Regions from separate parts of the Homo sapiens genome. Here all the other regions are reported to be linked to region 2. The links are microRNA targets in miRTarBase. Many come from high-throughput screens and were not tested one by one. Region 2 holds a microRNA gene; each other region holds the end of a gene's coding sequence. Distances are from middle to middle.

Evidence for each region. The annotated mature microRNA hsa-miR-548f-5p reads UGCAAAAGUAAUCACAGUUUUU and lies in region 2 at 2,004-2,025, shown strand. An mRNA with a match to its seed (bases 2 to 7 or 8) in the 3' UTR can be bound and repressed. Matches are read on the target gene's strand: a 7mer-m8 pairs with bases 2 to 8, a 7mer-A1 pairs with bases 2 to 7 and ends in A, and an 8mer does both.
Region 1: miRTarBase lists DLG5 as a target of hsa-miR-548f-5p. Seed matches in the 3' UTR shown: 7mer-A1 at 1,851-1,857.
Region 3: miRTarBase lists MLEC as a target of hsa-miR-548f-5p. Seed matches in the 3' UTR shown: 7mer-m8 at 3,111-3,117 and 7mer-A1 at 3,119-3,125.

What each region holds. Positions count from the first base shown.
Region 1 is chr10:77,789,491-77,792,746 of GRCh38, forward strand. It overlaps DLG5 (discs large MAGUK scaffold protein 5), which reads right to left. Exons shown (of 32, transcript NM_004747.4): 32 at 1,301-3,053. The coding sequence ends at 2,950. Among named protein-coding and RNA genes, the nearest start is that of DLG5, 140 kb to the right of the region's middle.
Region 2 is chr10:54,606,695-54,609,950 of GRCh38, reverse strand. It overlaps MIR548F1 (microRNA 548f-1), which reads left to right and starts at 1,994; the gene lies at 1,994-2,077. The region is part of intron 2 of PCDH15 (protocadherin related 15); the gene reads left to right. It overlaps LOC105378311 (a long non-coding RNA gene), which reads right to left. Exons shown (of 6, transcript NR_134503.1): 3 at 2,966-3,256.
Region 3 is chr12:120,696,071-120,699,316 of GRCh38, forward strand. MLEC (malectin) reads left to right here. Exons shown (of 5, transcript NM_014730.4): 5 at 246-3,246. The coding sequence ends at 475. Among named protein-coding and RNA genes, the nearest start is that of MLEC, 11 kb to the left of the region's middle.

The DNA of each region.
Region 1 (3,256 bases), 23 Mb from region 2:
GAAGGTTTGGCATCACACCTGAGCTCTGTGAAAGAAACCAGCCCTAAAACCAGCAGCCACCACCCCAACCCCTACACCCCCATCTGCCCAGTCAGTGACTTAAAATCCATCGTGTTAGGCCGGGAGTGGTGGCTCATGCCTGTAATCCCAGCACTTTGGGAGGCCGAGGCAGGCAGATCACCTGAGGTCGGGAGTTTGAGACCGGCCTGACCAACATGGAGAAACCCCGTCTCTACTAAAAATACAAAATTAGCCAGGTGTGGTGGCGCACGCCTGTAATCCCAGCTACTCAGGAGGCTAAGGCAGGAGAATCACTTGAACCCAGCAGGTAGAGGCTGCAGTGAGCTGAGAGCATGCCACTGCACTCCAGACTGGGCAACGAGAGCGAAACTCCGTCTCAAAAAAAAAATATATCAACGGCTCTGCTGCCCATTCTGAGGATGGCGCAGGGTGTGGGCTGTCAAGGAGACAGAGGCAGGCCCTGTCCCTATGGACACAAGGGCCCACTCCAACTACCAGAGCCCCGCACAGCTCTGTGACACCCCGTGGCCACAGGTGAGATCAAGACTGCAGGGCCACAGTGGAACTTCACCCAGCAGGAAATGATGAGGGAGGCATCCACATCAGTCTGCCCCCACCAGCCTGGCCACCAGTGGAGTGTGAGTGAAGCTTCTGGAGAACATTCTGCCCCCAAGCCCCTCCAAGAAAAAGGATCAGAGAAGGAGGGCTCTGCTCTGCCCCAGGCCTCAACCTGGCTTCCTGCAGCTAAAGGCCCAGCCTCCCAACTTCCTCATCACCTTGCAACACGGAGTTCAGGCCCACGTGGGCTGTTCTGGGAGTCCAGCAATGCTGGGTGATCTCCCAGTGTGATGCTGTCAGGTACTACAAAGCAGCCCCCAAGCAGGTGGGGCCATTCCCAGCCAAGGGCCCCAGACAGGGCCCTGACTGAGAATGCTACCCAGAGCACTCAGCTCACTCCCTTTTGCTTTTCCCAAGCCTGCAGAATTGAATGTGAGGGCCAGAGGGCAGAATCTGGGTCTCACACAGATGGGCAGCCTGGCTGCAGTCACCAGTTCATGCCACACTGGACAGATGGGTGGCAGGGAAGGGCAGGAAGGAGTGAGAGAGAGGCTGATGCAGCGGGTAGCAGGGACTGCAAATTGTCATGTGAGACAGAAAGAACCTACACATCAGCCAACTCCAGCTACGTGCTGCAGAGGAGAAGCTGTCTCAAGTTTAGAAATACAGGAAAGCTGACTGACTAGGAAGAGATTAAAAACTCACATCTTCAAACACAGCCTTACAGAAATTGACCTTTATTTGTTGTACTAAAGCCTGTTTAACTTTTGATACAAAGTAACATTTTAGTACAGAAAATCCCAGTCTGTCAGCTCAGTACCTGTCTGTGCACACTGTACCATCTCAGTCCCACTCTGCCTGTAACTTAGAAAACAGCCCCTACCCCCAGAGGGTCTGCGAGTTAATACCTTGAGAATAGTCTACAGTTTTTCATAGTTTGTCTGAGCTAGAAAACTTGTACCTGTAAAACAAAGGACAGCATTGAGGACTGAAACTTGTCTCTTTTTTGAACAACTGTGCAAGAAAATATATCCCTTTTTAAAAAACATCAGTTATGGCTAAACTACAATCTAGTGTCTAGAATTACAAAGAATAAAATGAAATCAAAGATTTCTCGCTAGTAAAATGAAATGTTAGGAACAGTATTAAAATATAGGTCCTACCCCAACGACACTTACACAGAGCCCAGTACAGTACCTATTATTAACAGGACGCATAGCTTAAGGAGGAACCACATCAAATCTTCAGCCAGACATATCTAGCCTCAGAAGTGCAAAAAAAAAAAAAGCCCCCAAACGAAGACACCCACACTGAGTAGGGTGCATGCCGTGAGTGCTGTAATCAAGATTAAAAAGACCTCAGTTTTTCTTTTTAGACTGTTGATAGTGACAATAACCATTATGCTTCCCCTAAAAGCTCTCAATTCAATGTCTGAAACATGAATGTTTTCATATCAAAAAGAACTGATGTACCTGCCACCCTCTAAAAAGTTTAAGAATTACCCTGCAAACATTGCACTGATGAAGGCTGTCACGACTTACAGAGCCTAAGGAGGACCCAATGGCAGGCATCAGCACAGCTGAACACCACCTGGACCCCACTGCAGCCCTGCCCACGCAGCTCTCACGGAGCAGACACAGTCCTCAAGTAATAAGCACAGATGGAGGAGAAACGAGAGGCTGTGGAAGGCAGGAGAGAAAGGCCGAGAGACGAGTTTGTAAGAATGCCAAAGTCACCTTCCCCATTGTGGGAGGAAAATGCCAAAGGCACTGGTTCTGCTGCCACAGGCAGTCTGAGCACCTGGAGTTGTGACGTCCTTCCAGGAGAGGTGCCACCAAGGAGCAGGAGGTTTGTCAAAGCTCTGGTCCCACCAACAAGAACCTCCCAAAGCAAAGCAGCCCCCATTGAGGTTCCAAGGTCGTTTTGCTGAAGACGGGAACGAAACCAACACCAAAGCGACAGGGGGTTGACAGAGGGGACAGGGGCTGGGCACCGGCAACATGGAGCCGTTCAAGTAAACATAAACCACCAAATACTTAGAAAAGGCTTGTAAACGAGTGATCCGAAAGGTTCTCTTTGCAGCATCTCTGATCAGCTGGCTAAAGAAAGGTGGGTGCTGAACCCGTCTTTAGTGTTATCTGTTTTGTGTTAAAGCACACGTGTGACACGGGCAGAGTGTGTGGGCCTGGGCCTGGATCGCACGCAGCCGTGGCCCTCTGTCTACAAAGGAGGTGCTTCTGGGTCCTGGTTCCGGATCCTTCCCCCGCATGTTCATAGACGGACAGACTTCTACTTTCAGTCGCTAGAAAAGAGCTGAGTCTGGTGTCCCCTCAGGCGGCCAGCTGCAGTCATCCACAGCACAGCATTCTCCTAGAGCGGGCAGGCTGGAATCCACAGGACTTTATTTTGTTCTTGATTGACCATTGCCAAGATCTGAGTGCAAATGCTTGACAGGGCTCCTCCCTGGATGACCCCTGCAAAAGAGCCCCCCAGACACGTCATTCAGCTCAGAGTAAGACCCCAGGTTTGAGGCAAGGCAGTACAGCTTGCACTCTTTCTACTGTGTGGCTGTCTGCTTTGTGCTCCTTGGCACTCTGCTCCATCCCCACCTGACTCTCCTTCACCAGCAAGAAACTGGGAAAGAAAATTGCCCCTCTTGAGTTGATCACTCATATGT
Region 2 (3,256 bases):
AGAGAAACTATTTTAATGACATAAATATATGAACATAATTGAACTGCATATAAAGTGTTAAACCAATATTTAGCTATCTAATGTATTATAAATAGCCCTGCCTTCACATACATTTCCTCTAGGGAAAAAAATAGAATCATTTACTTTCTATAGATATTTAGTGTTCTTCAAAGTATCTTTGTTATTAAATTAATTTGGGAGAGGGAGGTGGTTAAGAAAACATTGCTTTACACCAGTACATATAACTATGTGATTTATAATAAATGCAACCACAGTGGCAGTATATTTTCTGGATGTTAATAGCCTGAAATCCCTTTCAGTAGCAGCATTAATCAGTCAAGGATGGGTTATTTTATGGTCTTTAATGGCCTTTGTTGATAGATGGAGATTTTGTTTACAGATTATTCTTCATTGAAGCACCATAGATTGCAAGCTATGATTCTTAAGAGATATTCTCAAAACATAAATTATGCTGCTAAGAAATCTGTTCAGAGCTAAATTAAATTAGATAGCTGCATTTTTTATGAAGCATAGGTAATGGAGCAGTATACTACAAATGCCTTTTCCTGAGACATTGGTGTGGAATATCTTTAACACAGAATTTTTTCCTAAGAAACATTCCTTTACTTGTGTGCAAGTTTATGAGCCTACATGTTCCTCTCCTGAGTAATTTATGTAGAATACATAACATTTGAAATGTATTTATGATATTTGACTATTATAATGAATATCTGCCTTCAGGTCAGACATTACCAAAAATTTTCATTTTTAAAAAATGAGCAAAAACAGTAGTGCTCATTTATATTTTCCAAATGTCTTCATAATTGAGTATACTGACAATTCAATAGTCAAATTTTAATAATTGTTGCAGTCAACGTTTTGTTTCACATTGAATAATTTTTTATTGTACCTTTCAGGGAAACATTATTCGTGCGCTTGTAGTGCGTGATTATCATTCATGTTGCTTCTAATAATATTTTGCTCACATACATCTTATAGATTGAGTACAGAGTCTAAAAATTTGGGTATGATTATACTACTTCAGAATATATTTTCATTTCCCAAATGTTATTGACTCTTAAAATTTCTAGCTAGGGACTGATTTTTTTTTCTCATTTCTTCTTCTTCTTCTTTTTTTAATGGAGAATAATATAATAGCTGTGGAAAACAAATGACTGTATTTTACTAAACTACACTAAACAAGCCAAGACACCCTTAATTTAATTCAATGTGAAAGTCAGAATTGTAAGAGAGCATAAATCTTGACTTCTTGACGAATATTACCAGACTAAGTCACATCATTTTGTTTGATGACTTTCTCCTTTTTGTATTTTTTATTTTGTTAAGAGAGGGTCTCTGTCACCCAGGCTGGAGTGCAGTGGCATGATCACAGATCACTGCAGCCTAGATATCCTGGGTTCAATCTATCCGCCCACCTCAGCCTCCAGAGTAGCTGAAACTATAGGCGTGTGTCACCACACCCAGATAATTATTATTATTATTATCTGTAGTGATGAGGTTTCACTAAACTGCCCAGGCGGGTCTCAAACTCCCGAGTTGAAGCGTTTCTCCCACATCAGCCTCTCTAAGTGGCTGGACTATAGGTGTACCCCACCATGTCCGCTATTTTTTCTTTTTTTTTTTTGGTAGAGATAAGTTTTTGTCATGTTGCCCATGCTCGTCCTAAACTCCTGGGCTCAAGCAATCCAGCCACCTCGGCCTCCCACAGTGCTGGGATTACAGTTGTGAGCCACCACACCTGGCCTCTCCTTTTATTGAGCGAAGTGTTTGCATACAAATCCCCTGGGATTTTTTTGCTCGGAAATCCCCTCAGGGCTATGCCTAGTCCTCTTTTTGGCTCTATCACTTTTACTGTATTTGTCAAAGAAAAGTATTTCAAGTTAAAATATTATTTTGAAAAATTCCTTATGTGTGCAAGTCTTCTCACAATAACCAAAATGATGTAGGCAAAGCCTTTCCAAAGTGCGGAAGTATTAGGTTGGTGCAAAAGTAATCACAGTTTTTGACATTACTTTCAAAGACAAAAACTGTAATTACTTTTGGACCAACCTAATAGCCTGATTAGCAGTGTCTTGCTCACAGTAGGCCTCATGGCATCATATCTCTTCCTTACCATCATTCTTCATATATCTATAAAAATTCTTTGTAGTAGACAGTAAAAGCCTTAAAGTTACCATTGATTTATTGAGCAATCTAATATTTTTTCTAATAAATATATTAAGATAATATAAATTTTAAAATCTCCATTACCCTCTAGTCTATTATATTTTCTTACTGATTGAATCGTTATGCTAAGGCAATTCTAATCGTAAGGACTATGGGTTGATTTCTACTCTTAACCTGAAACAAGAATAAATTTGTCATGCAGACAAATTTGCATAATGTTCAAAACATAAACATATGCCAGGAATTGAGAGGTCTCTGAGGGCAGGGACCTGGATTTCCTGTATGCCTTTCCTTCTCTTCTCTCTAGTCTACTGCCATTCTTTAATATTTTTCCATATTTAATAATGCCACATGTTATCATATATTGGGTAGTGGGCAGGGATATGGAGAAAATCATATTTTTGCCCCAGAATCCTCTACCAAGAATATTATTAAATTTAGAAGATTTTATATCACATTATTGTTTACCACATTTATTGCACATAAACTCAATTTTAAATCTTATAATTATCTTTTGACTAGTTCAGATATATTTAATTATTGTATTTTCTTTATGTAAAAAGTATTGTTATTAAATGTAAACATATAAAACAACTCATTTTCACAAATAATTTTTAGCATTTTAATTTTTTAAAATTGCAATAAATATTAAGTATAAGTTACTTTGACAACTAAAAGACCTTTATTACTTATGTTAATAAATCTTTCTAGCCACCTGAAATTAGTATATCTTTTCAAAAAATTCACTATATTTTTATGTGTATTTGCAGCCACTCACCATTTAGCCTTTGTTTTATGACTCTAGGGAATTCTTCATTAAAAGCTTTAGAATAGTCAGAATGTGAAACAGAAGACAGATCTATATAAGGCTCTTCCTCTCTCATCCTTCTGTTAGGAATTCTGCCACACTTTTGGTTTCTGATGGGTTTGATGTGACTTGGCCTTAAGTTTGGGCCATCCTTTAAACAATTAATCTGTGTTCTCTGCCACATGCTTCCAAACAAGTGTAGCTTGACTTCTTATCTTTTATGATATCTGAAAACCCTTCAGCCTACAGAGACACATACAC
Region 3 (3,246 bases), not on the chromosome of region 2:
AGAACAGGAAGGTAAGATAGTGAACCTCCCTATGAGCACGGCTTTTTCTACTTTCTAGTTAAATCTAAAGCTTTTGCAGCACTCTGCTGTTCTGTAGACCAGAGGCTATTTCTGCTACTTCTGGTCTTTTCTCTGGACCCGGGTTCAATCACAGCAATCTCTTTATTGTGGCTTATTTGCTGCTTTTAAGGGTCTCTCTTACTTAAATGCTGTGGGTCTTAACAGTGTTTTCTTCCTTGTGTTAGATGTACCAAAGCTTCAGCCTCATCCGGGATTGGAGAAGAAAGAAGAGGAAGAAGAAGAAGAAGAATATGATGAAGGGTCTAATCTCAAAAAACAGACCAATAAGAACCGGGTGCAGTCAGGCCCCCGCACACCCAACCCCTATGCCTCGGACAACAGCAGCCTCATGTTTCCCATCCTGGTGGCCTTCGGAGTCTTCATTCCAACCCTCTTCTGCCTCTGCCGGTTGTGAGAACAAATGACTATCCTGAACAGGGTGGAGGGGTGTGGGAAAGAAACCAGCCATATTGGTTTTGGTTTCTGTATTTTTCACAATGATTAATGAACAAAAACAAAGAGAAAAAAACACACATCAATTAAAGGAGACAAAAAGAGGCAGAGCGAGTAGAGAGCAGCCCTCATTCACCACCTGGTCCCAGACGTGCTTCAGTCCTCGTCCTCTCTTTGTGGCTGGCTCCCAGCCTTCTCTTTCCTCTTGAGGATACTTAGGGTAAACTGGATCCTTCCTGCTCAAGGATCCTCATTTGTATACCTAGTGGAAAGGACTCTGAACTCAGAGGAGTCACTGTTCCTTTTTTTAGGTTAGAAATTAACAGCAGGGAAATGCCATCTTATTACCTGAGACGACCAGCACTGGGAGTTAGGTACGGTCTGAAGTTATGTCTAGATAAGACTTCAGACGTCCTGGGATTGAAAGAATGTGTGTGAAGGGGTAGAATTTGTGCGGTAAAGACTTAAAAAAAAAAGTAGGGAGATTAAAAAAAAAGAAAGAAAATGCTTCCTTATCTGGAAGCCTTTCTGGATTAATCCAGTGATGGTCCCACCTTTAGTGTTTGAGCTTTGTCATTGCTTGTCTCCCTGGCATGTGCCAGTTATAGACTGTCCAGCATCCAAGACGTTTCGGTTATGTCGGGTCCTCAGATCGCCTCTGACTTGTTACCACAACAAATCATTTTGATTTCAGTGCCTGTTGGGGACTTGATTTCTTCTCAGTTTTGTTTGTTTGTTTGTTTCCTTAATCTGGCTCATTTGAAATTTCTTCTCCCTCTCAACCATCCCACTAAGTTATAGCCAAGAAGGGAAGGAGACACGGGGATTTGGGGTTCTCTGCTTGAATGTCTTCTCCTTTACCACCTCACCTTGTTGGTACCTCCCTCCCTGGATCTCTGAGCCAGCAGCCAGGAGGACCTGACCCAGCAGTTCTTTACTGGCCCCTTTGTAGGGCCTTGCTGCCAGGGGGCAGGGATGCTTTCCAGCCTGCAGCAACAGAACACTTGACCTTAAAAGTCTCTTCTGGTCTTTGGATTAGAAAAGGCTTATGTTAGCATAGCTTAAGAGCAACCTCAGAGATTTGAGCCCTACTAAGTGACTGACCACTGTTTAGAGTGTCTGGTATCTGATGTTCATTTATTCCCATGTTCTTGTGTGTCACAGTTCAGCCAGTTTTGGTTTATGCCTAGAGCTACTTCAAGGAACTAGACTAATTAGCTATATAGGCCCAGCGATGCTTCTTATTGATCTTAATAGTATGCCCCTCCTTCCCCTGTCCTTTCATTTCTCTATCCAAGTAGCAGTCAGGTTCTTGGTGTGATGGGACTGAAAGAATTCCAGTCAGCCAGAGCCTTGGCAGCTCTGAAGCTAACCTTAGCATCTAAGTGTCGATCTTGAATTCCCTGAAAAAATTTCTATAGGAAATGAAGCTTCCCTGGTCCCCTCCTTTCTGGCCATTGTCATCCATTTCCCAGTTAGGGCAACAATGAAGGAGGACCCAGCCAAGCTAGAAGGAATTTTGTGGATGGGAGACAGCAGGATTAGCTTCAGCTTGGGCTGGAGCAGTCAATATAGGATCTCAGGCCAGGCCCGCTTTTCTAGAATGTGTTTAATTTTGAGTTTGCTTTATTAGATATGTTTTTTAAGAGCTCTGTATATTTGAACTGCTCCTTATGTGACAAAATAGGTAGCTCTTGGGCTCATGTCCTGGGTTTTGGCTCTTTAATGATTACTCCAGGCCAGCATTTAGTCGTTTGAGAATTGTAGCCTGTTGTTTTCGCTGTGACTTGGGTCTCAGTGCTAGGGTATTGAGTCAGGCAGCTGGAGGGTTGTGGCCCGAGGCTGCAGTCAGAGGTATACTTCCCATAGTGCTTCACACAGCTCCCCTGCTTCTAAAGGATAAGGTACTGTAGCCTTGGTCCTGGGGACCACCTGCCTGGGGCAGTGGACATCCTAACTAAACAGGCTTCTGGCAGTAGCTTTGGTTCCTATCCCATCGAAATTCCCCAAAGCCCTGGGCCACTGCCATTGGGTTAGTCAAGATGAAGGAGGAGGACTGGCTGCCTCCATTTTGCCTTGTTTGTTAGTTTGCCTGGGTCTGTCTGAGGAAGGAGGGGGTCCCGCCTTCCACCTCAACACATCCCTTCAGTGACTCAGAGTCTCAGAAGGAAACCCTGACTCCTGGGGCCATTTCCTAATGGTACTGTAAGCCAAGCAGCTTTGCTTCTGCCTCTGTTTCCAAGCCCACCCTTTTCCCCTGAGCTCAGGGTTAGGGATGGGCGCTTTCCTCTCTGGTTGTGAACGAAAGGAAGGAACATCTTTCTATGGCTAACAAAAACTAAAGGGGAAGTGAGGAAACAGGAAGAAGTATGGTGGGGGCTGGGGTAGACTCCCCTGGAGCCAAGCCTATCCAGCTAACAAGAGCTCCCTGGGGCTGGTCACAGCTGGCTCATGATGCTGAACTTGAAAGTTTTTTTGTTTTTGTTTTTGTTTTGTGGCTCCTCCAAGATATAGGTACATGAAGTTTAGGTTAAAGGGGTGGGATTCTTTATTTTTATTTTTGTATTGTATGTGTCAAGAATTACTCTGTTGTTCACCTTTTGCTTTTTGCACTGTTTGTTCTCTTATCTGTATTTTGAGCTTAGTGCTAGGACTGAGAGGCTGCACCATAGGGAATGTATGGGAGATGGTGAGGGGTGCCAGTGAGGGGTGCGTGGAGGAGAGGCCTGGGCT